Linked DNA regions of Homo sapiens. The protein of the gene in region 1 interacts with the protein of each later gene in a pairwise test. Each region holds a gene or a part of one and is shown in the gene's direction. Other genes may lie near its edges. The genes, in order: BAAT, CASP6, SETDB1 and HIP1.

Region 1 (7,025 bases):
CAGTGACTATGACATGTAGACTCTTGATAAATTCTTTTTGAAGTACTAATCAATTTGACTAAGAGTTGGAAATGTAGATTCCATTTCTGACTCTCATGTATTTCTGTATGATCTTAAGTACTCAATTTCTTGATTACAAGAAAACAAATGAAATACGGTACTTGGAAGCTATAGTATCACTTATTTTTAAGCTTCTCAGGAAACATATTCAATGTTTACTCACCACTGAATTATCATTCTCAGGACTTCTCTCTCTGTAGGCTCATTCTTGTCAGCATGTATTTATGTCTGTGTCTGTCTCATCTCTCATCTATATATACACATATATGCAACACAAACACTGTTGCATATATTTTCTTTTACTTTCAATCTGTCTTTTTTTGACAATGTGTTTCTGAAAAATAACCACTTGCTTTTTCAATTAGTTTGACAATCTGTCTTCTTTTTTATTTTTATGTATGTATTTATTTTAGAGATAGGATTTCAGCTCTTTCACCCAAGGTGGAGTCAGCTCTTTCACCCAGTGGCATGATCACAGCTCACTGCATCCTTGACCTCTTGGGCTCAAGCAATTCTTCTGCCTCAGCCTCTCAAGCAGCTGGGACTACAAGTTTGCCCCACCACACCCAGCTAATTTTTACTTTTTTTTTGTAGAGATGGGATCTCACTATGTTGCCCAGGCTGGTCTCAACCTCCTGGGATCAACCGGTCCTCATACCTCAGCCTCCCAAAGTGCTAGGATTACAGGCATGAGTCACCACGCCTGGCCTGTGTCTTCTAATTGGAGTGTTTGATCTGTTTGTATTTAACGTAATTATTGATATGTGTGGGTTTAAACTCCCATTTCCATTCATCCCATTTATTATTTGCTCCTTTATTCCTCCTTTCCTCTTGTGGCAGATTGCATTTCCCAAAAATGTATACACAAATACACATACAAATACACACACACAGCCAGGTGCGGTGGCTCATGCCTGTAATCCCAGCACTTTGGGAGGCTGAGGCAGGCGGATCATTTGAGGTCAGGAGTTTGAGACCAGCCTGACCAACATGCTGAAACCCCATCTCTACTAAAAAAACACAAAAAAATTGGCCAGGCATGGTGGTGGGTGCCTGTAATCCCAGCTACTCGGGAGGCTGAGGCAGGAGAATCACTTGAACTGGGAAGTGGAGATTGCAGTGAGCCAAGATTGCACCACTGCACTCCAGCCTGGGCGACAGAGCAAGACTCCATCTTAAAAAATAAAAAGCAAATACACATACACGTTTCATCCACTTAAAAAAATTTTACAATGTGATTGACATATCTCCTACTGTTAATAGGTATCAACATTTTCTCCACTTGAATTTTGATGGGAGCTTGTGGCTGCTATTAAATGGCAGAGATTATGCTATGTGATTTCCAGTGCTAGGATATAAAAAGGATACAGCTTCTACCTAGCTTTTTCTCTCTTGTGTTGCTTGCCCTTCCAACCCAGCCACCATGCTGTGAGTAAGCTTGCTCTGTGGTAAGTGAGCAGGTCTGTGCAAACCTACCCCCAAAGGCCAAGGGAGCTGAGACACTGAACAAAGAGAGTGACAAAACAGTTTCTCAGAGAGAAACATTTAATAGGGGCTTACAAACAGAAGCTGTGTCTCAGGCAGCTGTGAGACAAAGGATCCCCTCACTGTTACTCCCCAGACCCAGGGTTGATATACCATAGGGAAAGGATATACATGCTTCAGCAGGAATATGTAGGAATTTGCCTAAGGGTAGGATTTATGGTAGGTGCTCTTATACAAGAGATAGTAGATAAGGCAGAAATCTTAAAGGCATTCCTAGAAGTGGGATTAATCAGATGTCAACTGGCAGATTAGAATTCAAGATGGAGTTGCTATAACCTCCACACTCCAGCTTTCTAATTGGGCTTTTAGAATCTCACACACTGTCCTCTTCTTCAATGGTCTTTGAGTTTAGAGGAAGGGTGCTTGATATTGTACAGCTTTAGCAGCAGTGCACTGGCAATGGGAAACAGATCAGGCCCAGTGGGATTTCAGATGAGAAAAAATGCATAGGCTTTCTTGAATCATCTCTAGTCTTTGGAGTACCATGATTTTGATTTTCTTGGATGAAGTAAAACAATGAGAGATAAATAACATTAATATGCACACAAGGGACTACAATCAAAAACAGAATTTGTATGCCAGAACAACAACAACAAAAAAGAACCTATTCCATTAGGGAGCCAACTAAAAACAACATGAAGAAAATTAAAACCGGGTTTGTCTTTAGAGACTTCTTGTAGCCACAAAATAATTTAGGATTTAGTCCAAATTGTAGGCAAGTAATAAAAACAATGGTTAAGACTAGAATCTAATCATGGGTGTACAATAGTTTTCTTCTGAAACAATTTTTTTCTAAGTTTCTCTATTTCTACCAAGGATAAATTATTGTAGGACCAATTTATTTGCAAAATGAATTTTAGTCTCATTATGCTTGACCTGATTATTTGCATAAAGTGCAGCAAGAATAGTGATTGGCCATATAGGTTCTTGTAAAATTGGCTTTTTTGGAACTTTTAAATAAAGAATCTCAGATTTTTTTAAAGCCTTGAGGCTAACAAAGCCAGGGATTTGCCATCAGGCTGCAATAGCTGTATAAATTGGGTGAATTCTTCTAAAGATTTCCAAATAACTGGAGGTTCCTGGGCATGTCAAAATGCGACATTCGCCGGATGCGGTGGCTCACGCCTGTAATCCCAGCACTTTGGGAGGCTGAGGCAGGCGGATCACCTGAGGTCAGGAGTTGGAGACCTCCTAACAATGGTATTTCTGGTTTTAGATCCTTGAGGAATCACCATACTGTCTTCTACAATGGTTGAAGTAATTTACACTCCCACCAACAGTGTACAACTGTTCCTATTTCTCCACATCCTCTCCAGCATCTGTTGTTTCTTGACTTTTTAATGATCACCATTCTAACTGGCATGAGATATTATCTCATTGTGGTTTTGATTTGCATTTCTCTAATGACCAGTGATGATGAGCTTTTTTTAAATATGTTTGTTGGCTGCATAAATGTCTTCTTTTGAGAAGTGTCTGTTTATATCCTTCACCCACTTTTTGATGAGGCAGTTTGTTTTTTTCTTGTAAATTTGTTTAAGTTCCTTGTAGATTCTGGATGTTAGCCCTTTGTCAGATGGATAGACTGCAAACATTTTCTTTCATTCTGTAGGTTGCCTGTTCACTCTGATGATAGTTTCTTTTGCTGAACAGAAGCTCTTTAGTTTAATTAGATCCCATTTGTCAATTTTGGCTTCTGGTGAAATTGCTTTTGGTGTTTTAGTCATGAAATCTTTGCCTGTGCCTATGTCCTGAATGGTATTGCTTAGGTTTTCTTCTAGGGTTTTTATAGTTTTAGGTTTTACATTTAAGTCTTTAATCCATCTTGAGTTAATTTTTGTATAAGGTGTAAGGAAGAAGTCTAGTTTCCATTTTCTGCATATGGCTAGCCAGTTTTCCCAGGACCGTTTATTAAATAGGGAATCCTTTCTCTGTTGCTTGTTTTTGTCAGGTTTGTCAAAGATCAGATGGTTGTAGATGTGTAGTGTTATTTCTGAGGCCTCTGTTCTGTTCCATTGGTCTATATATCTGTTTTGGTACCAGTACCATGCTGTTTTGTTTACTGTAGCCTTGTAGTATAGTTTGAAGTCAGGTAGCATGATGCCTCCAGTGTTGTTCTTTTTGCTTAGGATTGTCTTGACTATATGGGCTCTTTTTTGGTTCCATATGAAATTTAAAGTAGTTTTTTCTAGTTCTGTGAATAGTATTGAATTTATAAATTACTTTGGGCAGTATGGCCATTTTCACAGTATCACTTCTTCCTATCAATGAGCATGGAATTATTTTTCCATTTGTTTATGTCCTCTCTTATTTCCTTGAGCAGTGGTTTGTAGTTCTCCTTGAAGAGGTCCTTCACTTCCCTTGTAAGCTGTATTCCTATGTATTTTATTCTCTTTGTAGCAGTTGTGATTGGGAGTTCACTCACGTTTTGGCTCTCTGCTTGTCTAATATTGGTATAGTAATGCTTGTGATTTTTGCACATTGATTTTGTATCCTGAGACTTTGCTGAAGTTGCTTATCAGCTTAAGGAGTTTTTAGACTGAGATGATGGGGTTCTCTAAATATAGAATCATGTCATCTGCAAACAGAGACAATTTGTCTTCCTCTCTTCCTATTTGAATACCCCTTATTTCTTTCTCTTGCCTTATTGCCCTGGCTAGAACTTCCAATACTTTGTTGAATAGGAGAGGTGAGAGAGGACATCCTTGTCTTGTGCTGGTTTTCAAAGGGAATGCTTCCAGGTTTGCCCATTCATTATGATATTGGCTATGGGTTTGTCATAAATAGCTCTTATTATTTTGAGATATGTTCCATCAATATCTAGTTTACTGAGAGTTTTTAGCATGAAGGGGTGTTGTAAACATTTTAGCTTTTATAATCCTATCAATCCTTATATTTTATGCTCTAGTCTCAGGAACTTCTGTACTCCACCCCCAGACCATTTTACCCTCTCTTGTGAAAAAACCTCTGGGTTCCCAGCAAGGAGTTGAGCCAAGGGATGTGGGCCTTTTTGTCAATCTTTATCTGATTAGTCTGTCTCCACATTGCCCCAGGAAATTATTAATCAGCTTTCTCATTGTAATTTTTGCCTTCTGATTTTTGAAACTTCCCCAATCTGGTGTAAATATAGAAAACTGATTTGGGGCTCTTTAATGTTGGGGAACCAGCAGGGACTCCCTTTGGTCCACCCAACATTTGATAGTGTTGTATTAAGACTCAAAAGGTAAACAAAAATTTTATTATCTCTCATTAATACTATCCAAAAATCTTGTTCAAAAGAGAAAACTAAATTTTGCTTTGTATTAGAGTATTATCAATAGTAAAGCTAATTTTAATAAAATTTTATGAATGATTTCATTGACTCTCACTCAGCTTTTGACCACACAAGAATTCCATAAAGCTTTTCTCTATCCAAAGGAATATAAATAAATCACTCTACCATAAAGACACATGCATATGAAAGTTCATTGCAGCACTATTCACAATAGCTTTTCACAGTTTCAAAGACATGGAATCTACCTAATGCCCATTAATGCCCTCTTACAAAATTGCTTTCTATGTTTCTCTTTCTCTAACTTTTAGATCTATTTATTTGTATCTATATCATTTCTTCCATTCATTTTGAAACAATCTTTAAAATACCACTAAACCGGGCCAGCATGCCTACATGCTCCTAGTCTTTGTGCACGAGTGGGAGGTGGCAGGCCTCCAACAATGCAGCTAGTCTTTGTGCGTGAGTGGGAGGTGGCAGGCCTCCAACTGTGGCCTTCTCTGCTGACTGTTCTAGTGAGGCATCCCCAGCCATGAACCATTTTGGTACCTGGTTGGTGGGAGGCAGGGTGACCCCATTGCTGCCACTGAAAGCCCGCAACAATGAAAATCTCAACAAAATTGGTATGTCTTTGGATGATATCATCAAACTAAATTGACAGGGAGGAAAGAAGCATAATTTTCTAACTGGAGCCTGGCAATTCAGGATGAGCATATGATGGAGAATTCAACAGAATTCTGGCTTTGGTAAGACTAGTCTGAGCACAGAGGATGAGTAATGCCTGGAAAGAGACAGCTTTATGGAGTTATCACTGGCCTTGCATCTAGGAAAGCAACTGGAATTCACAAAGAAATTAATCCTATGAATCATCCGTCTCTAGGTGACAGGAATATAGAACGATATTTTCTAGTGTTAAAAAGGAAGGCAAACCTTCTGGGACAAATATGAAGTGCAGAAAAAAACCAGTTGCAGTTCTCAAGGGACCTAACCAGCTAAACAGAAAAAAAAAACATTCCAGCCAATTTTACCAAGAATGGAAATAAATTAAGCCATCAGAAACACATGCGTCAGGCAACTTTTCATTTCAGAAGAGACGTGAAGGTTCAGACCCAGTTGAACACAACAGCAACTGCTGGATAACGTAGTCGGAAAGAGAACTCATCAATGGCAGATTTTTGTTGCAGGACTTCTTTTTAGTTCAGCTAAAGATGTGGTCCTTGTCCCACGGCCACAAAAATTTAGGCTCACAATTTGCGGAGTGAGAAAAATGGAACTTATTGGGCAAAAAGGAGAAAAGGGGGAACAGTTACTTTCGGCAAAGCCGGAATCGCAGCTAGTGCGCTCCCTGCCTCGCCATTTGAATCCAAGGTTCCACACAGGAAGAGGAGGGGCCAGGCTCCTCCCTACTGCAAATAGCAGAAACTTCGGTGGCACCCCAGTGTGCATTCCTCCCAGTTCGCCCGCGGTTGGAGTTTTTCCATGGACTCCTTCCCACTGGCTGTCTCACTTTCACCACAAACGGAGGAATTTTGACTCTATCTTTGGACAATCCTGGAGCAGTGCAATGCCTAACACAGAAATCAGGATTAATTCATACTGCTGTATCTTCATTTTTAACAAAATGGAAGCAATCTGACATAACGAAAGTTCCTAAAGTGGAACCCTACAATTGACATAAATTGTGCTGGAAAACAGACAGAGATGACTTTGAATGAGAAGTTTAGGATCCTGAAGGAACAAAGAGCCACTCTGACAAACAACAAAGGAGGAAGCTGCTTTGTAACTGTATTAGTCTGTTCACACACTGCTAATAAAGACATACCTGAGAGTAGGTAATTTATAAAGGAAAGAGGTTTAATGGACTCAAAGTTTCACATGGCTGGAGAGGCCTCACAATCATAGCAGAAGACAAAGGAGAAGCAAAGTCATGTCTTACATGGTGTCAGGCAAAAGAGCTTGTGCAGGGAACTCCCATGTATAAAACCATCAGTTCTTGTGAGACTTATTCACTACCATGAGAACAGTATGGGGGGGAACAACTCCCGTGATTCATTTATTTCCACCTGGCCCTGCCCTTAACATGTGGGGATTATTACAATTCAAGGTTAAGATTTGGTTGGGAACACAGCCAAACCATATCAGTAATCATGGG
Region 2 (7,667 bases), on another chromosome or scaffold:
TATACTTATTTCTTAAGTATTCATTATACTTATTTTAATATATTAGAAGTGGTGCCTTAACACATTTTAATTTTTTTCCCACTCTAAGGTTGCTTACTTTTAAAATTACAAGGTCCAGAGGAATTACAAAAGATAAAGCCACCGTTTCATCAAATCTGAAAGCATTGTCAAAGTAAATTTTTTACAATAGCCAACCACCCAAGGAGGAGCTAAATTAAATCCAACATTGAGCACCCCATGGCACCTTGTTGGCACACTGTTTGGCTGCTATTTTTGGGGTAGGACAACATGCTCTCCCCAGGAAACACCATTATCTAGAGACCCTCATCATTCTGTGAATTTCTGCATGGTTCTGTCCCTGAATTAGCTCTACCTATGAAAGCCAGATTTGAAAAATCCAGGAGAAGCCAGGTGTCGTGGCTCATGCCCGTAATCCCAACATTCTGGGAGGCCAAGGTGGGCAGATACCAGGTCGGGAGTTTGATACCAGCCTGACCAACATGGAGAAACCCCATCTCTACTAAAAATACAAAATTAGCCAGGCATGGTAGTGCACGCCTGTAATCCTAGCTACTTGGGAGGCCAAGGCAGGAGAATCGCTTGAACCCGGGCGGCAGAGGTTGCGGTGAGCTGAGATCATGCCATTGCACTCCAGCCTGGGCAACAACAGCTAAACTGTCTCAAAAAAAAAAAAAAAAAATCCAGGAGTTACCTCCAGTTTACTTTGGCCCAAGTTTCATATACAAAGAACATTTAAAATAAGTTACTGCAAGTCCTACAAAGTAACTTGCACTGGGGAAAGGACTACACATGAAACAGGAACATATATGCCACCCCCTATGGGATACCTCAGAGGGATTTCGAGTTTGGTTCCAGACCACCAATAAAAGAGTCACACAAATTTTCTGGTTTCCCAGTGCATATGAAAGTTTTTCATACTAAAGTGTAGTCTGTTAAGTGTGCAATAACATGTCTAAAAAAATAATGTATATACCTTAATTTTAAAATATTGCTAAAAGATGCTAGGGATCATCTGAGCCTTCAGCGAGTTATAAATGTTGGTGTGGGGTATTGTTGAGGGCTGCTGACTGATTAGGGTGGTAGTTGCTGAAGGCTGGGATGACTGGCAATCTCTTAAAATAAGGCAATAAGGAAGTTTGCTTCATTTTTTTGTTTGTTTTGAGATGGAGTCTCGTTCTGTCACTCAGGCTGGAGTGCAGTGGCATGATCTTGGCTCACTGCAACCTCTGCCTCCTGGTTCAAGTGATTCTTGTGCCTCAGCCTCCTGAGTAGCTGGGATTACAGGTGCCTGCCACCGTGCCCGGCTAATTTTTGTTATTTTTAGTAGAGACAGGGTTTTGCCATGTTGGCCAGTCTGGGCTCGAACTCCTGGCCTCCCAAAGTCCTGGGATTACAGGCATGAGCCACTGCACCTGGCCATCCATTGATTGTTCCATTCACTAAAGATTTCCCTGTAGCATGTGATGCTGTTTGGTAGCATTTTATCCACAGACCTTCTTTCAAAATTGGGGTCAATCCCCCCAAACCCTGCCACTGCTTTGTCAACTAATACCCTGAATCCTTTGTTGTCATTTAAACACAATTCACAGCATATTCACCAGGAGTAGATTCTATCTCAATAAACCACTTTCTTTGCTCATCCGTAAAAAGCATCTCCTCATCTATCAAAGTTTTATCATGAGATGGCAACAATGCAGCCACATTTTCAGGCCCCACTTCCAATTCTATTTGTCTTGCTACTTCTGCCACATCTACAGTGACTTCCCTCACTGAAGTCTTGAACCCCTCAACATCAGTGATGAGGATTGGAATTAACTTCTTTCAAACTCCTGTTAATGTGGAGATATATGCATATACCTATGTATAATGTATGTGTGTGTGTATATGTGTGTGTGTATATATATATATATATATATATATATATATATATATATAAAATGGATAGGTATGTTGTCCTGCCTGTAAAATACCACCCAGTGTGCCAATTGAAATATATATAATTTTTAAATATTTATATATGTATTTTATATATATTATATATATATATATATATATATATATATATTTTTTTTTTTTTTTTTTTTTTTTTTTTAAAGAGTGTCTTACTCTGTCACCCAGACTGGAGTGCAGTGGCACAGTCAGCTGACTGCAGCCTCAAACTTGGGCTCAAATAATCCTGCCATCTTAGTGTCCTGAGTTGCTGGGAATACAGGCATGTGCCACCACTCTTGGCTAATTAAAAAAAAAAAAAAATTGTAGAGACAGGGTCTTGCATTGTTGCCTAGGCTGGTCTCAAAACTCCTGGCCTCAAGCAATCCACCTTGGCCTCCCAAAGTGCTGGGTTTACAGGCATGAGCCACTGTGGCTGATACATGTACTTTTAATTTTTCGTTTTTCTTTTTTTCCCCCTCTAGTCTCTAGTTACATACCGTAAGTGGATATTTTGACCTCCCATGAATCACAAATGTTCTTAATGGCATCTCGAATGATGAATCCTTTCCAGAAGATTTTCAATTTACTTTGCTCAGAACTATCAGAGGAATCATGATGACAGCTATAGCCTTATGAAATGTATTTTGTAAATAAGACTTGAAAGTCAAAATTTCTCCTTGATCCCTGGGCTTCAGAATGGATGTTGTGTTAGCAAGCACGATAACAGCATCAGTCTCTGTACATCTCTATCAGAACTCTTGGATGACCAGGTGTATTGTCAATGAGGAGTAATATTTTGAAAGGAACCTTTCTTCTGAGCACTAGAGCTCAACAGTGGGCTTTAAATATTCTCTAAGCCATGCTGTAAATAGATGTGCTGTCACTAACTAGCCTTTGTTGGTCCATTTATAGATCATATTTAGCATAATTCTTAAGGGCACTAGGATTTTCAGAATGGTAAAGGAATGTTGGCTTTAAAGTCATCAGTTGTATTAGCCCCTAACAAGAGCATCAGCCTGTTCTTTGAAGCTTTGAAGACAGGCATTGACTTCTCTCTAGCTATGAAAGTCTTAGATGGAATCTTCTTCCAATAGAAGGCCGTTTCATATACATTTAAGATCTGTTGTTTTGGCTGGGCACGGTGGCTCACACCTGTAATCCCAGCACTTTGGGAGACCGAGGCGGGCAGATTGCTCAAGGTCAGGAGTTCAAGACCAGCCTGGCCAAACATGGTGAAACTCTGTCTCTACTAAAAATACAAAATTAACCTGGACATGGTGGCACATCCTGTAATCCCAGTTACTTGGGAGGCTGAGGCAGAAGAATCGTTTGAACCCAGGAGGCAGAGGTTGCAAAAGATCGCACCACTGTACTCCAGCCTTGGTGACAAAGCAAGACTGTCTCAAAAACAAAAGATTGTTGTTTAGTGTAGCTGCCTTTATCAATGATTTTAGCTAGATCTGGATAACCTGATGCAGCTTCTACGTTAGCACCTGCTGCTTCACCTTGCACTTTTATGTCATGAAGATAGTTTCTTTCCTTAAACCTCAGGAACCATCCTCTCTGCTAGCTTCCAGCTTTTCTTTTGCAATTCCCTCACCTCTCTCAGCCTCCATAGAATTGAAGAGTTAGGGCCTTGCTCTGGATTAGGCTTTGGCTTAAGGGAATGTTGTGGCTGTTTTTATCTTCTATCCAGACCAACTAGAACTTTCTCCATATCAGCAATAAGGCTGTTTAGCTTTATTGTCTTTTGTGTGTTTACTGGAGTAGCATTTTTAATTTCCTTCAAAATTTTTTCCTTTGCATTCATGACTTGGCTTTTCTCCTTTGCACTCACAACTTGGCTAACTGGAGCAAGAAGCCTAGCTTTCTGCCTACCAACATTACTTCCTCACTAACTTAATCATGTTTGCTTTTGATTTAAAGTGACAGGCTCTTCCTTTCATTTGGACACTTAGAGGCCTTTGTAGGATTATTAGTTGGCCTAATTTCAAAATTGTGTTTCCAGGAATAGGGAGGCCCCAGGAGGGGGAGAGAGAAGGGAAAGTTCGGTGGAACAGTCCAAACACATACAGGGCTTATGGATTAATTTCCCCTTCCTTTATGAGCGCGGTTCATGGTGCCCCAAAACAATTGCAATAATATTAAAGATTACTGATCACAGATCACAACAGCAGACATAATAACAATGAAAAATTTTGAAATATTGCGAGAGTACCAAAATGTGACACAGAGACACAAAGCGAGCCAATGTTGAAATACAGGCAGTATCTGCTAAGCGGTATAAAACAATCTATGCCTGTACCTCTAGAAAGTACAGGCATAGCAAAGTAAGGAATAGCAAATGTTTGGGGCAGCTGGGATTAAATGAGTCCGAGCTCACACAAGTGATGTGAAATTGCCTCGGGCTAGGCGGTCTGTGTGTCCCCCCGGGTGGCAACTGGCATGTCCCCAGGGCACGGTTAGTCCCAGCGGGCCTGGAGGCGAAGACCGCGTACCTCTCCCTGCCCCCGCGCTCTTGGTCCCCGCGGGCTCCGGAGCGACTGGGAGGAGCTTTAACTCTGGGAAGGACCAGCCCGATCCACGGGAGCCCGGGCGGCGCGCAATCAGAACCAACTGGCCCCACGCTCGGGGGCAGGGGGCGGGGCCGCCGAGGAAGGGCCGAGGGCGGGGCCGGGCCCGGGAGCCTGTGGCTTCAGGAAGAGGAGGGCAAGGTGTCTGGCTGCGCGTTTGGCTGCAATGAGCTCGGCCTCGGGGCTCCGCAGGGGGCACCCGGCAGGTAGGCAGGGGGCGTCGACTGGGCACCGAGCAGGTCTGCGTCTTGCTCCGGCTGGAGGGGAAACGAGGGTTAGTGGACCGGGCGCGCGGACCGGAGTGGGGCCGCGGGTTCCTTCGGCTTTGCAGGGCGGCCTGGAGAAGTTGCACTCTTGGATTGAAGCGCTCAGGGCGGGTGGGGACGGTTTCGCGCTTCAGTCTAAGAAACACTCGGGGACCTGGCTGCCGCCTCCTGGCGGTCCCGAGTAGCGACGCCGGCGCCGGGGCGTGCCCCTGCCGCCTTTGTCCTCCGGGGCGATGAGCGCTTTCGGGGCGCCCCGGCTGTTTAAACCTTAAAAGGCTGTCCCCACGCGGGCCTGGCGTTCCCCCACACCTGGCCGTTTGAAATGTTGGGGGTTGGATCTTTTGTTTGCTCACTTCGAAAAGTGAAAAGGAGGGGTTGTTCCGCCGAGTCATAATGAAAACATAACAGGCCCGCGGGGTGCCCGGGCCAAGACCCTGGGTCCTCCCGGGCTTCAGCTGGAGGCGGCCAGTTCCTGGCGGCCAGCACACCCCGGTATCTCTCTTCTTCATCCAGGAAACCTGCTGCTGTCTGTCGGTTTGAGCCAAAACCACAATAACTTTTTTCTGCAAAGTAATCAACTGCTAAGAGCGTACGTTCTGTCACTTATTACTGGTAAAGTTTAGAAACTTCAAGCCTGGCCAGAGTGAAACAAACAAAAAGGTCGAAACGCCTGCAGTTGGCCGGCCGTGGTGGCTCACGCCTTGTAATCCCAACACTTTGGGAGGCCGAGGCGGGCGGATCACCAGAGGTCGGGAGTTCTCGACCAGCCTAACTAACACGGTGAAACCCCGTCTCTACTAAAAATACAAAAAAATTAGCCAGGCCTGGGCGCAAGCTACTGGGGAGGCTGAGACAAGAGAATCGTTTGAACCCTGGAGGTGGAGGTTGCAGTGAGCCGAGATCGCCCCACTGCACTCCAACCTCGGCGACAGAGTGAGACTTCGAATCAAGAAGAAAAAAAAAAAAAAAGAACGAAACGCCTGCAGTTGGTTAGAGTGCCTTTGTTTAAGAACTCTTTATATTTTGCTGCACAAAGGAAATGGTGCTCCAGAGGCAAGCTGTAAAAGTCACATGGTCGTAGAGGAGGTAGATAGGTAGCCTTGTCCTGGAGGCACAGTGCAGGGTCCAGTTGCAGTCTCTAGGGGCGGGAAGCCGGGGCTTTCCTTCACTCACCTGCTCCCTTCCTCTTCTTCCTCCACCGCACTCCCCAGTGCATGTTCTAGGCCTGATGGAGGTTACTCTACATAGGGTTACTAAATACATTGTTGATGGAGCCGATGGGTAGATTTTCATAGAGAGTGCAGTGAATGAAGACGATGACAGTAGAATGACCGAAGTCGTTTGGGAAGTTGAACAAAGTTTAGAAAGGTAGCCGGTCTCGGGTGGGAGGGGCTGCGTGGGGATGGGCCTACAGAGACTTTGGAATCTGTAGGTGGGCTGGCTTTCAATCCCAGCTTCACTTTGCCGACCTTGGCACGCCTGGCCCACTTTCTCTGTCCCTGTTCCTGAGCTGTGGAGCTGTGAGATAAGGTATCTAAGGCATCAGGCCATCAACAAATGGTAGCTGGCAGGATTATCTGGAGGGACTATCAAATTAGAGTGAGGTGAAAAAAGGAATGATTAGTTTTGTAAAACCTAAGCTGATTTAAGGAATAAGGAGGTGGCAGTTACATTATCCTGCAAAGGAAGAGAAGTGAAAAGAGGGCCAGACACAGTGGTGGGCGCCTCTAGTCCCAGCTACTGGGGAGACTGAGGCAGGAGAATCGCTTGAAACCTGGAGGTGGACTTGCAGTGAGCCAAGATTGCGCCACTGCACTGCAGCCTGGGCGACAGAGGGAGGCTCTGTCTCAAAAAAAAAAAGTGAAAAGAGGTCAAGAATCAGGTTTAAAGAAGGGCACATTTTTGATAAGTAGATTGCAGATGAAAAGGAATTTCTATATCTGTTATACAGGGTAGCTCCTTCATTAAAATTTATTTTCTCCATATCAATAAAGCTATTTCTTACTTTATCCAGGTTTTTAAATATTAACGCAGGCCGGGCGTGGTGGCTCATGCTTGTAATCCCAGCACTTCCAGGAGGCTGAGGCAGGTGGATCACTTGAGGCCAGGAGTTCAAGACCAGCCAGGACAACATAGCAAAACCCTGTCTCTACTGAAAATACAAAAAAAAAGTAGCTGGGTGTGGTGGCGCATGCCTGTAATCCCAGCTACTCAGGAGGCTGAGGCGGGAGAATCGCTTGAACCCGGAGGCGGAGGTTGTGGTGAGCCGAGACCACGCCACTGCACTCCAGCCTAGGCAACAGAGCAAGACTCCATCCCAAAAAGATAGTAATAAAAAATAAATATTAATGCGGCATAATGATACTTAAGTGCCCCCTTCTGGAAAGCTTGTCTTCTTGGGATACACAGCTCAAGGTGGTCATGATGTGTTATTTTCTCTCAATCTGTGGGTAAAGTTTATCAACTCCAGAAAAGTATTGGAACTTAGGTCCTGGCATCTGTCTCCATAGCTTTTTGTTCTGATTCAGTGTTTGCTAGAGTGGCCACTGGACCTGGTCATTAACTGGTACTGCAGGATGCAGGGTGCACTTTGTGAGAGTGAAGGTAAGTTACAGCTGGCCAGCATCAGAATTGGGATGTCCAGAGCCTAGGTTTTTTTCTACATCCGTAGCATTAACAAACAACAACAACAACAAAAAACTTAAAAAAAAAATCCCTCACTGAGGTTGCCAAATCTGTTAACTTTGAAACTGAATGTATTAAGAGATGGGGTCTAGCTCTGTTACCCAGGCTGGAGTATGGTGACTATTCACAGGGGCAGTCATAGCACACTATGTCCTAGAACTCTTGGGCTCAAGAGATCCTCCTGCCTTGG
Region 3 (6,898 bases), on another chromosome or scaffold:
TACTTTTTAAATGAAATGTAGATTCAATAACTAGTACAGTTAGTGTAAAGACACATGAACAAATTAAAGCAATGATAAGACGCTGTGGTAGTCAATAAAGCTGGTTCATCAGACACACCAGGTTCTCCCTCCTCCCAGAGGTAAGATAACTGCTCTTCCTGGCCCCCTGGTGGTTGTGTAGGACTTTGTGATTCATTCAGGTCAATGAGTTGTAAAAATCAGTGTCTTGAGTCATTTTGTTAATATGAGTCCCTCTAGCATTCTTTCCCTCTGGTATTACTACTCATCAGTGTGGGTTTCCCCAGTAGCTATCATTAGCAGAGCCCCACCATACCTTCCAGAGATGATTATGTAGTGTGAGCAAGAAACACGCCTTTTTTTTTTCTTTTAAGCCACTCAGATTTTGGAGTTGTTTCCACAACATAACCTAGTCTATCCTGATACTGATACTATTTTAATACATATCAAGTTCTTAAAAATTAAGTAGTTAACACCCAGTACTAATAGGGGTGTGGGGAAACACTTTCAGATTTGCTAGTGAGAGTAATAATTGTTACAACCTTTTAGAAAGGTAATTTGACCGCAGATTCTATTAAAATGGAAAAAAAGGGGCCGGGTGCAGTGGCTCACACCTATAATCCCAGCACTTTGGGAGGCCGAAGCGGGCGGATCACCTGAGGTCGAGTGTTTGAGACCAGCCTGTCCAACATGGAGAAACCCCATCTCTACTAAAAATACAAAATTAGCCGGGCGTGGTGGTGCATGCCTGTAATCCCAGCCTCTGGGGAGGCTGAGGCAGGAGAATCGCTTGAACCCCAGAGGCGTAGGTTGTGGTGAGCCGAGATCCTGCCATTGCACTCCAGCTTGGGCAACAAGAATGAAACTCTGTCTCAAAAAAAAAAAAAAAGGCCAGGCGCGGTGGCTCACGCCTGTAATCCCAGCACTTTGGGAGGCCGAGGGGGGCAGATCACGAGGTCAGGAGATCGAGACCATCTTGGCTAACACGGTGAAACCCCATCTCTACTAAAAATACAAAAAATTAGCCGGGCGTGGTGGCGGGCGCCTGTAGTCCCAGCTACTCGGGAGGCTGAGGCAGGAGAATGGCCGGGTGCAGTGGCTCACCGCTATAAAACCAGCACTTTGGGAGTCCAGGGCAGGTTGATCACTTGAGGTGGTGGGTGGATCACCTGAGGTGGTGGGTGGATCACCTGAGGTCAGGAGTTCGAGACCAGCCTCGCTAACATGATGAAACCCCGTCTCTACTAAAAATATAAAAATTAGCTGGGCGTGGTGGTGGGCACCTATAGTCCCAGCTACTCGGGAGGCTGTTGCAGGAGAACCCAGAGGCGTAGGTAGGCTGTGGTGAGCCGAGATCCAGCCATTGCACTCCAGCCTGGGCAACGAGAATGAAACTCCGTCTCAAAAAAAAAAAAAAAAAAAAAAAAAAAAAAAAAAAAGGCCGGTTGCGGTGGCTCACGCCTGTAATCCCAATCCCAGCACTTTGGGAGGCCCAGGAGGCGGAACCCGGGAGGCGGAGCTTGCGTGAGTCGATATCGCGCCACTGCAGTCCAGCCTGGGCTACAGAGCGAGACTCCGTCTCAAAAAAAAAAAGGAAAAAAAAGGCCTGGCGAGGTGGCTCATGCCTGTAATCCCAACACTTTGGGAGGCCAAGGTGAGCAGATCACAAGGTCAGGAAATTGAGACCATCCTGGCTAACACAGTGAAACCCCGTCTCTACTAAAAATACAAAAAATTAGCCAGGCGTGGCGGCACGCACCTGTAGTCCCAACTACTCAGGAGGCTGAGGCAGGAGAATCGCTTGAACCCAGGAGGTGGAGGTTGCAGTGAGCCGAAATCGTGCCACTGCAGTCCAGCCTGGGCGACAGAGCGAGACTCTGTCTCAGAAAAAAAAAAAGAAAAGAAAAGAAAAAGAAAGAAAGGGCCGGGAGCAGTGGCTCACGCCTGTAAGTAATCCTAGCACTTTGGGAGGCGAGGCGGGTGGATCACTTGAGGTCAGGAGTTTGAGACCAGCCTGGCCAACATGGCGAAACCTCGTCTCCACCAAAAATACAAAAACTAGCCGGGTGTGGTGGCAGGGGCTTGTAATCCCAGCTACTCGGGAGGCTGAGGCAGGAGAACTGCTTGAACCCGGGAGGTGGAGGTTGCAGTGAGCCGAGATCGCACCATTGCACTCCAGCTTGGGTGACAAGAGCGAAACTCAGTCTCAAAAACAAACAAACAAACAAAAAAAGGAAGGCTCGGCGCAGTGGCTCACACCTGTATGTAATCCCAGCACTTTGGGAGGCCGAGGTGTGACGAGGCCAGCCTGGCTAACACGGTGAAACCCCGTCTCTACTAAAAATACAAAAAATTAGGCGGGCGTGGTGGCACGCGCCTGTAGTCCCAGCTACTCGGAAGGACGAGCCAGGAGAATCGCTTGAACCCGGGAGGTGGAGGTTGCAGTGAGCCAAGATCGCGCCATTGCACTCCAGCCTGGGCGATAGAACGAAACGCCTTCTCAAAAAAAAAAAAAAAAAAAAAAAAAAGGAAAAAAGCACATATTATTTTACTCAAATTCCATTTTGGGAAATCTTTTCTTTTTGTTTTTTGTTTTGTTTTGTTTTTGAGACGGAGTCTCGCTCGGTCACTTAGGCTGGAGTGCAGTGGCGCGATCTCCTCTCACTGAAGCCTCTGCCACCGGGGCTCAAGCGATCCTCCCCCCGCCTCAGCTGCGGAGTTGCTGGGACCACAGACGCGAACTACCACGCCTGGCTTTTTTTTTTTTTTTTTTACCTTGTATTTTTAGTCGAGATGGCGTTTCGCCGTGTTGCCCAGGCTGGTCTGGAACTCCTGGGCTCTAGCAATCCTCCCGCCTCGGACACAAAGCGCCCGGCCTGGGGAATCTTTTCTACAGAAATAAAAGTACTACTTCAAAAGGATGTTTATTTTTATTGTTGCGCTATTTGTCGGGGCTGAGAACGGAAAACAATCTAAACAATCTAAACTATTCAGGTGTCAAAAATACAAGTTATTGGTTTTTTGTTTTTTTGTTTTTTTTGGTTTTTTTGAGACGGAGTCTCGCTCTGTCGCCCAGGCTGGAGTGCAGTGGCGCGATCTCCGCTCACCGCAAGCACCGCCTCCCGGGTTCACGCCATTCTCCTGCCTCAGCCTCCCGAGTAGCTGGGACTACAGGCGCCCGCCACCACGCCCGGCTAACATTTTTAGTACAGACGGGGTTTCACCGTGTTAGCCAGGATGATCTCCATCTCCTGACCTCGTGATCCGCCCGCCTCTGACTCCCAAAGTGCTGGGATTACAGGCGTGAGCTACCGCGCCCGGCCAAAAATACAAGTTTTACCTTTTTTATTGGCTTCAGGTAATGTCCACATGTTAAATGAAAACAACAAAAATCCAAATACAGAAACTCGTACATACAAGACTGGAAAATGAAGCTGTATTACCTGAAAGGAGCGGAGTGGTGATGGGGCAAGAGAGAATATTATCACGTTTTTCTTATTACATCTTGATAGCCTTTACAATTTGTATCACTTATGTAACAAAACAAACTCAAGTAAAACTGAGAGAATAAAGCTCTGAACCTATGAGCGTTTCCCTAAGTCTTTACACAATGAATATAGTAATGGGGCCACTAGTCGAGGGTGGTAGGAGCGGCGGAGACTCGGTAATATACTGGCCACGCCTACTCTGCCCTGCCAGTCTCTTCTCACGTGTGCCCCTGGAAGGCTCTGCCTTAACGCATGCGTAGTTACCTTAGTTTTCGTCGCCTCTGAGGGGCGCCCCGCGGCTTTGGATTTGACCCCGTCAGGCTACCGTCGCGGTGACCGGAACGGCACTAAAGGTTTGCTTCCGGGCGTTTCTTTTGCTTCCCCTTCCCTCTTTCACGCTTCCTCCCCTCCCCCTCCTCCCTTATCCCTTCGCTTTCGCTCTTTTCCGTCGAGGCCGACCCCTGAGTTGTGAGTCTGGGGTCTGGTTGGTGAAAAAGAGCCCTTGAAGCTGGAAGACGGGAGGTGCGGGGAATACTGTTGAGTTATTTGGTGACCAAAGGCTTATCTGGGACGTTTTGTTTGTGGGAGGGGGTCGGGCGAGGGTGGGAAGGAAGTCTTCCCCAGAGGCGAACGGGGGCGGGGCTGAACTGGGTTTGCGAATGGGTAGGACGCACCCCTAGAATGGGTAGCACGGGGGTGGGCTGGTGTGTGGGCAGAGGAAAATGGAGGCGCTGAAAATCAGATTTTCTTTAACCGTTTGATTAAAAAAGCAGTTCACACGAATGTGTGAAGTATTTGGATTGTGGATATTAGGTACCCACGTTTTATTCCCAGGTTGCTTTACTTCTCTGTACTTTGGGGGAAACCTTTTTGCTGCAAGCTTTCGTGTGTTTGAATATCATAGACTTTTTAAAAAGTAAAATTCCACATGGAAGCAAAGTAATATAAGGGGAACAAGTAATGAAAGAGAAAACACTGAGTTAGTGAGTTCCAAATCAACTCCATCCCCAGGTGGGGTTTTGTTTAAATTAGGCATAGCATACAAAGATTTATCACATTAGTTAAGGAACACATATAGACCACAAAAATATCTTATAGATTGGTTCTCTTCAGTATCCCAAAAGATTATTTTTAAAGTTCGGTTTGTTTTGAGACAGGGTCTCACTTTGTCACCCAAGCTGGAATGCATGGCGCGAACATAGCTCACTACAGCAGCTACTCCTGGGCTCAAGCGATCCTCCCACTTCAGCCTCCTGAGTAGCTGGAACTAAAGGCGTGCACCACCACACGTGGCTAATTTTTGTATTTTTTTGTAAAGACGAGTCTTGCCATGTTGCCCAGGCTGGTCTTGAACTCCTGCCCTCAAGCGACCCTCCTGCCTCGGCCTCTAAAAGTGCTGAGATTACAGGTGTAAGCCACTGTGCCAGCCCAAAACATTATTTTCAGTAGCTCTCTACTGCTTAATGAATGTTCTCCATGCCGTCTCAAACTCTTAAATCTTTTTCAGGAGTGTTAGCGTACAGCAGAAGATAAGAACTCTTAAAAATCTCAGCATCAGATTCTGGAGAATAGGGAGGGAGAACATGGAATATTTGAATAGAATAACAGGCAGCAGAGTAGGAATTAGTTTTATTAGGGAACTGAAATTCTCTATTGATTGATTGTAGTTATAAGGACTCCAATTTAATTTGTTTTCTGTTCCATGCAGAGGACAAAAGCATGTCTTCCCTTCCTGGGTGCATTGGTTTGGATGCAGCAACAGCTACAGTGGAGTCTGAAGAGATTGCAGAGCTGCAACAGGCAGTGGTTGAGGAACTGGGTATCTCTATGGAGGAACTTCGGCATTTCATCGATGAGGAACTGGAGAAGATGGATTGTGTACAGCAACGCAAGAAGCAGCTAGCAGAGTTAGAGACATGGGTAATACAGAAAGAATCTGAGGTGGCTCACGTTGACCAACTCTTTGATGATGCATCCAGGTGAGAACTCCATGGAAAATAGAAGGAAATCTCTCCATTGGGAGATGTTTTTAGAGAATAATTGTTCATGACATTGAACCAAGCATTTTATTTTATGTTTTGAGACGGAGTCTCGCTCTGTCACCCAAGCTAGAGTGCAGTGGAGTGATCCTGGCTCACTGCAACCTCCACCTCTCGGGTTCAAGTGATTCTCCCACCTCCCCCTCCCGAGTAGCTGGAATTATAGGCATCCGCCACCACACCCAGCTAATTTTTTATATTTTTAGTAGAGACAGGGTTTCACCATGTTGGCCAGGCTGTGTACCAAACATTTTATACTTTATGAAGTACAGATGTTTAGAACCTTACTCTTCCTCAAAGTTTATGGTCAAAAATCTGACCTTACAATCAGCCGTAAATATAATTTTCATCTGTCAGCAGCTAATACATGATCAGCAGTAAGGGAGTCCAAGTCTTAAGTCCTTTCCCCTTCTTCCTCCTGTGCTCTATCTTAGAACAATTGCTTCATTTCCCTAGTAAGATCATCCAGGGAGTGAGGATTGTAAAGAATTTCTGTCTTACGTAACTCTGAAGCATTAGTAAGTTCCCATACCCCCAAAAGATTTGTTTCTGGTGCTCTAGTTGTCACTTAGAATACATTGTTTTTAAATTTATTATACTTTAAGTTCTAGGGTATATGTGCACAACGTGCAGGTTTATTACATATGTATACATGTGCCATGTTGGTGTCACTTACATTAGGTATATCTCCTAATACTATCCCTCCCCCTTCCCCCCACCCCACGACAGGCCCCAGTATGTGACGTTCCCCATCCTGTGTCCAGGTGTTCTCATTGTTCAATTCCCACCTATGAATGAGAACGTGCGGTGTTTGGTTTTCTGTCCTTGCTATAGTTTGCTCAGAATGATGGTTTCCAGCTTCATCCATGTGCCTACAAAGGACATGAACTCATCCTTTTTTATGGCTGCATAGTATTCCATGGTGTATATGTGCCACATTTCTTAATCCAGTCTATCATTGATGGACATTTGGGTTGGTTTAAAGTCTTTGCTATTGTGGATAGTGCCGCAATAAACATACGTGTGCATGTGTCTTTATAGCAGCATGATTTATAATCCTTTGGGTATATACCCAGTAATGGGATTGCTGGGTCAAATGGTATTTCTAGTTCTAGATCCTTGAGGAATCGCCACACTGTCTTCCACAATGGTTGAACAAGTTTACAGTCCCACCAACAGTGTAAAAGTGTTCCTGTTTCTCTACATCCTCTCCAGCACCTGTTGTTTCCTGACTTTTTAATGATCGCCATTCTAACTGGTGTGAGACGGTATCTCATGGTGGTTTTGATTTGCATTTCTCTGATGGCCACTGATAATGAGCATTTTTTTATTTTATTTTTATTTTATTTTATT
Region 4 (6,884 bases), on another chromosome or scaffold:
AGAGAGAGAGATTGGGGTATTCATCCCCCAGCTGCCTCCCTGCCACGCCACTTTCCACAGTGACTGTGGGTTTTCTACCTAAGGTCACAGCTCTGGGAAAATGCCTACTTTCCCATGACCAGAGCCCCCACCAGGTTACAGCACAGCTCCCTCCCCTTTTCTCTTTAGGTCTAGAGATGGTAACAGCTTCCTGGTGTTCCAGTAATATCTGGTGCTTTACCTGTCCCGGTTGATTCCCTTAACTCAGGTCACACCTTTGTACATAGTTCCTTCTCTTTCTTTTTCCTGAGAGAGGGTCTCGGTCTCTCAGGCTGGCGTGCAGGGGTGCAATCATAGCTCACTGCAGCCTCGACCTCCTGGGCTCAAGGGATCCTCCCGTCTCAGTCTCCTGAGGAGCTGGGATTACAGGTGTGCACCATCACACTTGGCTCACTGCAACCTCCACCTCCAGGGTTCAAGCGATTCTCGTGCCTCAGCCTCCCAAATAGCTGGGATTACAGGCGCGTGCCATCACACCCTGCTAATTTTTGTATTTTTAGTAAAGACGGGGTTTTGCCACGTTGCCCAGGCTGGTCTCGAACTCCTGGCCTCAAGTGAGCTGCCTGCCTTGGCCTCACAAAGTGCTGGGATTACAGGCATGAGCCACTGTGGCACGGCCACAAAAAATTTTTTAAAAATTAGCCAGACATGGATGGGCATGGTGGCTCATGCCTGTAATCCCAGCACTTTGGGAGGCTGAGGCGGGCAGATCACTTGAGGTCAGGAGTTCGAGACCAGCCTGGCCAACATGGTGGAACTCTGTCTGTACTAACAATACAAAAATTGGCCGGGCATGGTGGCATACACCTGTAATCCCAGCTACTTGGGAGGCTGAGGCAGGAGAATAACTTGAACCTGGGAGGCAGAGCCTGCAGTGAGCTGAGATTGCGACACTGCACTCCAGCCTGGGCAACAGAGCGAGAGTCTGTCTCTTAAAAAAAAAAAAGGAAGAAACTATGTACAAAGGTGTGACCTGAGTTAGGGGAATCAACCAGGACGGGTAAATTGGCAAAGCACCAGGATTTGCTGGAACAGCAGGAAGTCACTACACCCTATCTCTAAATAAATAAATGTTTTTTAAAAATTGAGATTTTTGTTTGTTTGTTTTTTGTTTTTTGCTTTTTGGAGATAGAGTTTCACTCTGTCATGCAGGCTGGAGTTCACTGGTGCGATCTCAGCTCACTGCAGCCTTCGCCTCCCAGGCTCAAGTGATTCTCCAGCCTCAGCTTCTCGAGTAGCTGGGATTACAGGCACATGCCACCACACCTGGCTACTTTTTTGTATTTTTTAGTAGAGACAGAATTTCACCATGTTGGCCAGGCTGATTTTGAACTCCTGGCCTCAAGTGATCTGCCCGCCTCGACCTCCCAAAGTGCTGGGATTACAGGTGTGAGCCACGGTGCCCGGCCAAGGTAATTTCCTCTTCCTCTGTCAGCGCCCCTACCGTGCTCCCACGCTCAGTTGTCATCTCCCTCTCCCTAGACATGAAAAATCAGGTGACATCTAATCTCTCCCAAAGCAACACAAGGGAGGGGGCACTCCCAAAGCCTCCCACAGAAACACAATTTAAGTAAAGGTGAAACCAGTCCAGTCCTTCCTATGCAAATGTAGCCTGAATGGCACCGCCATTGCCCATCCCCCAATCCCTGTGTCCAAGCCTTATTTGCGTAACCTCCCACGGGACAGAACTTCCTCCTCTCCCTTCTCTTCTAGGCCCTCATCATCTCTCATCTACGCTAGAGTCTCCCCACTGATTTCCTCCCTTCCATCAGGCCCCCATAATCCATCCCCACAATACAAGCTCCTCAGTGCACACATCTGAGCAAAAGTCTTCAGTGGCTCCTTAGTAACCGCAAATGCCCACCCCTCTTTCACTTCTCTATTGAATGTGTGAATTTTTACCAAACGCTCTTATTAAAAAAAATAAAAACAAAAACAAAAAAAAAACAGGCAGGGCAGGGTGGCTCACACCTGTAATCCCAGTGCTTTGGGAGGCTGAGGTGGTAGGATCATTTGAGCCCAGGAGATCATGACCAGCCTGGGCAATCCAGCAACATACCCCTCACTACAAAGAAATATGTATATATTTTTTTGAGACGGGGTCTCGCTCTGTCTCCCAGGCTGGAGTGCAGTGGCGCGATCTCTGCTCACTGCAACCTCTGCCTCCCTGGCTCAAGTAATCCTCCCGCCTTGTGAGTAGCTGGGACTACAGGCTTGCACCACCACGCCCAGCTAATTTTAAAATTTTTTGTACAGATGGAGTCTTGCTATGTTGCCCAGGCTGGTTTCAAAGTTCAGAGCTCAAACGATCCGCCTGCCTCAGCCTCCCAAAGCGCTGAGATTACAGGTGTAAGCCACCGCACCTGGCCAAATTTACAACACACACACACACACACACACACACACGAATCACCAAATTGTTAGGCCTAAAGGTGCCATTCATTACTCCGAGTTTCAAATAACTTTTAAAAAATACATCTATGCCGGGTGCTGTAGCTCATGTCTGTAATCACAGTACTTTGGGAGGCCAAGGTGGGAGGCTTGCTTGAGGCCACGAGTTCGAGACCAGTCTGGGCAACATAGAAAGACTCCATCTCTGCAAAAAAGATAGCCAGGCTTGGTGGCGTGCATCTGTAGTCCCAGCTACTCGAGAGGCCGAGGCAGGAAAATCGCTAGGACCCAGGAGCTCAAGGTCCCAGTGTGTTACGATCTGCACTCCAGCCTGGGCGACAGAGGGAGACTGACTCCAAATGAAACCAAAAAAAAAAAAAAAAACAAACAAAAACAAAAACAAAAACACACCTAAATTGGAGTTTAACGGAAAACTTTTAACTTTCTCCAGCACTCCTGCTAAGCATCACACTTCTCTCTGCTTGCTGGTACCCTGGCTGACGTCTGAGCAGGATGGGACGCGCGGCTCAGAGCCTAAGATAAACCGAAAGTGTCTACAGGGCTTTCTACCAACAAATAAGCTCTGACGGGTTCCTTTGATGAGGTTTGGGAGGCAGGTCCCGGGAGGTGCCCGCGGACTCAGCCCCGAACTCCGGGACCTGGGCTCTGCGATCCTTGCAGAGGGCATGGGCAGGGGCAGAATGGAGAAGTGCAGGACGGGGAAGCCTGGGAGCTGGGTGGGGGCGGCCACCCATTGAGCCGGATCCGGCCAGGCGCCCACGCTGCGCCCCGCCCGCGGGGCTGCGCTTTCCCGGGCTGCGGCCGCAGGGCTGGTCAGTCCGGCGCTCCCGGGTCCCAGGCCCGGAAGGAGCTAACGGGCTATTCGCAGGCGGGCTGGGATTCCCCCGGGGGAGGCCCCACTGCCCGGCCCGCGTCATCCCCGCCCATCTCCACGGGCCGTCGCGGGATAGCCCCCTGCAGGAGCGGGCAGGGTAGTGGGCGGCGCTTGGCGGAGGGCAGCACGCTCGGGGCGCGCGGGGACTGCGGCCGAGGGGAGGAGAGGGCGGTGCGCGGGCGGGGGCGGGGCGAGCGAGGGCATATCAGGGCAGCCCGCCCAGGCCACGCCCCATCCAGGCCTCGCCCCGTCCGCACCCCGCCCCGGCCCTGCCTAGAACGGCGGGACCACGGTGACTGACAGGACTCCAGACCAGTCACCACGCGCCTCGAGGCCCCGAGAGGCTAGTCGGGGCCGAGCCAGCGGAGGGGCTCCTGAAGGGGCGGGGGCGGGCGGGGAAGCCGTTCGGCGAGGGGCGGGGTCTCTGGAAGACTGGCAGAACTCACAGCCAATGGCAGGCGGGAGCCGTCCCGTTAGCGCCGGATCCCCGCGGGTAGGGCGGGGCGGGCGGCGCCGTGGGGATCCCGGGGCAGCCGAGGGCCCCTGACTCGGCTCCTCGCGGCGACATGGATCGGATGGCCAGCTCCATGAAGCAGGTGCCCAACCCACTGCCCAAGGTGCTGAGCCGGCGCGGGGTCGGCGCTGGGCTGGAGGCGGCGGAGCGCGAGAGCTTCGAGCGGACTCAGGTGAGGACGGGGGACCCCGGGGCATCCCTGGGGCACCCTGAGGGACGCGGTGTCCGGGAGGGGCTTTGAAGGGAGTAGGAGTCTTGCAGGCCCCAGTTGAAGACGGGGCGAGGGTGTAGTGAGCGGGGGCATTGACGTGCAGATCTGGGCGATCCCAGGAAGGTCGGGGACCCCAGGGTACCCCAGCTGGCCTGGGGAGAAGGGCAGAGGCGGGCTCGGAGGAGATGGCAGGATGCGTGGCCAAGAGGAGCCTGATCGGCTGGGTACCGGGCAGGAGTCCCAAGATGAGGTGAGAGGGGAAGGAACTGAAAAGGGGCGGAATGGAAGGGTTGCCCCTAAACAAGGGAAGCGCACGGGAGCCACTTGGAGGCTCAAGTGTGGGGGCGGAGAGTGGGGGCGCCGGGCTGGGAATGTGAAGGGTGAGGGGACCTCTCTTCCCCTCCGATCACTTCTTGGTTGCATTGACATCCCTTCCCACCCCCCACCCCTTAGCATCCCCCTTTCTCGATGCCTCTTGCTTGGCTCTGGCCAGCCCCAGCTGTCAGCTCTGAGGCCGGGCGGAAGGGGTCGGAGCAGGGAAAAGGAATGTAGGAAATGCAAAGTGTGGCCACTTTGTGGGAAAATTACTTTGGGGGCTAAAGTGGAGACCATGGTGCCCCTGAGCCCTGACTTGGGGTCTTGGTTTTATCCCCCAAGATGTGCCTGACAGCTAATAGGCAGACTGCCCTATTTGTCCTGCCTGGCCAGGGCTTGGGGCCAAAATTCCTCAGTGTCATCAACAAAAAGCCACAATCCATTTTTTTCTCCGAGTTTTTAATGCCTGGTGTATTGATTGGGCTGAATTAAGCTGACATGTTGATGGTGTTCATCAATTCATTTGTATGTAAAATCCATTTCAAAGAGTACAACGCTTCTTTTAATCCCAGTGCCAATGCTGGAGGGGCAGATTTCTTCTACACTCTTGTGCTCAGAGTGGAACCTTTGAAGATCCATTTGGGTCCCCCTCTCCAGAGGCTGGTCCCCTGATGTGTTATGCGAGGAATACTTCCCCCAAACACAGTTGGAGGGAAAGGGCTTTGGGATTTTAGTTAGAAAAGACAGTGAGAATCTGACTGAAGGTTCTGTATATGGAATCTTTCAAAGAATAGAGCTTTTGGCCGGGCGCGGTACCTCACACCTGTAATCCCAGCACTTTGGGAGGCCGAGGCGGGTGGATCACCTGACGTCAGGAGTTTGAGACCAGCCTGGCCAACATGGTGAAACCCTGTCTCTACTAAAAATACAAAAAATTAGCTGGGCGTGGTTGCAGACGCTTGTAATCCCAGCTACTTGGGAGGCTGAGGCCAGCAGAATTGCTTGAATCTGGGAGGTGAAGGTTGCAGTGAGCCGAGATGGCGCCACTGCACTCCAGCCTGGGCAACAAGAGCGAAACTCCGTCTCAAAATAATAATAATAAAAAAGAATAAAGCTTTTCACCCCCAGAGGACTTCATCCCCTCTTCTTATTCTGAAAACCTTTGGCCCCCCACCTGGGCAACATAGTGCGACCCTGTCTCTACAAAAAATAAAAAAATTAGGCTGGGTGCATTAGCTCACACCTGTAATCCCCGTACTTTGGGAGGCCAAGGTGGGAGGATCACTTGATCCCAGGAGTTCGATACCTGCCTAGACAACACACTGAGATCCCGCCTCTATTTTGAAAAAATTTTAAAATTATCCTCGTGTGGTGGCATACACCTATAGTCCCAGCTGTTTGAGAGGCTGAGGCATGAGGGTCACTTGAGCCAGGAGGCTGAGGCTGCAGTGGGCTATGATCGTGCCACTGCACTCCAGCCTGGGTGACAGAGTGAGACTCTATCTCTACAAAAAAGTGAAAAAAAGAAAGAAAACCGCGCGCAGGTGTGTCTGGATAGTGTGAAGCAGTGGGACCCTGTCTCTACAAAAAAAAAAAAGAAAAAGAAAAAAAGAAAGTGCCTCCATGCAGGTGTGTCTGGATGGTGTGAAGCAGGGAGTCTTCTCTACCTGGTTATCCTACCCCAGGAGGGAAGTGGGAAATGGTCATTTCACTTCTGCCTCCCAGGATCCAGCTAGGTTTGAGGCTTGTTCTCTGGTTTCATGGACCCGACCCCTGAAAAGAAGGAAGTTTTCCATTGGTCTTGGATGTTAGTGCCTCTGCTAGCTGCCTAGTTACATGAGGCTTCTTGCTCCATGAAACAGTGTGTATATTCCTTTTATTTTTATATTTTCATAGAGATGGGGGTCTCACTGTGTTGCCCGGACTGGTCTCAAACTCCTGGCGTCAAGTGATTCTTCTGCTTCTGCCTCCCAAAGTGCTGGGACTACAGGCATGAGCCATGGCACCCAGCCCTATTTTTTTTTTTAATAAATGAAATAAGAAAATAAATAGATATTATTTTTTAACAACCCGTTCCTTCTAGAGTCTCAAATAAGTAAAAACTAGAGCAATAGAGAAATATGCGTAAGACTTTGACCCATAATAGTGATAGAAATTAGGTTTGTGAAAGTTTCCACCCGTGAGTGGTATGTTTCCCTGCTATCCAGGGACGGCCCAACAGGAGAGTCTAGGTCAGTGTTTTCTGGTGTTTTACATTCTGTGGGACATTTGTGATTGGCCAGATTTGACCTGGGTGGGGTGGGTGGGGGTGAAGTAGAGTGGAGCAGAAAAAGAGAATTTTTCTGATGTTGAAACTCTTATTTTTAACTTTTTTTTTTTTTAAGACGGAGGTCTCACTGTGTTTTCCCAGGCTGGTCTTGAACTAGCCTCAAGCGATCTTCCCACCTCAGCCTCCCAAAGTGCTGGGATTTCAGGTGTGAGCCACTGCACCCAGCCTCTGGTGTTGAAACTCTTTAGGG

The links.
Region 2: the proteins of BAAT (region 1) and CASP6 interact in binary tests that used the Homo sapiens proteins (3 or more experiments, as listed by UniProt).
Region 3: the proteins of BAAT (region 1) and SETDB1 interact in binary tests that used the Homo sapiens proteins (3 or more experiments, as listed by UniProt).
Region 4: the proteins of BAAT (region 1) and HIP1 interact in binary tests that used the Homo sapiens proteins (3 or more experiments, as listed by UniProt).

What each region holds. Positions count from the first base shown.
Region 1 is NC_000009.12:101,374,984-101,382,008, reverse strand, and holds part of BAAT (bile acid-CoA:amino acid N-acyltransferase), read left to right. Parts: intron 1-7,025. UniProt on the Homo sapiens protein: Catalyzes the amidation of bile acids (BAs) with the amino acids taurine and glycine. More than 95% of the BAs are N-acyl amidates with glycine and taurine.
Region 2 is NC_000004.12:109,700,421-109,708,087, reverse strand, and holds the start of CASP6 (caspase-6 isoform alpha precursor), read left to right. Parts: upstream 1-4,642; 5' UTR 4,643-4,692; coding exon 4,693-4,732; intron 4,733-7,667.
Region 3 is NC_000001.11:150,922,490-150,929,387, forward strand, and holds the start of SETDB1 (histone-lysine N-methyltransferase SETDB1), read left to right. Parts: upstream 1-3,873; 5' UTR 3,874-4,028; exon of another isoform or gene 4,029-4,055; intron 4,056-5,214; 5' UTR 5,215-5,225; coding exon 5,226-5,485; intron 5,486-6,898. UniProt on the Homo sapiens protein: Histone methyltransferase that specifically trimethylates 'Lys-9' of histone H3. H3 'Lys-9' trimethylation represents a specific tag for epigenetic transcriptional repression by recruiting HP1 (CBX1, CBX3 and/or CBX5) proteins to methylated histones.
Region 4 is NC_000007.14:75,735,928-75,742,811, reverse strand, and holds the start of HIP1 (huntingtin-interacting protein 1), read left to right. Parts: upstream 1-3,870; 5' UTR 3,871-3,891; coding exon 3,892-4,011; intron 4,012-6,884. UniProt on the Homo sapiens protein: Plays a role in clathrin-mediated endocytosis and trafficking. Involved in regulating AMPA receptor trafficking in the central nervous system in an NMDA-dependent manner. Regulates presynaptic nerve terminal activity.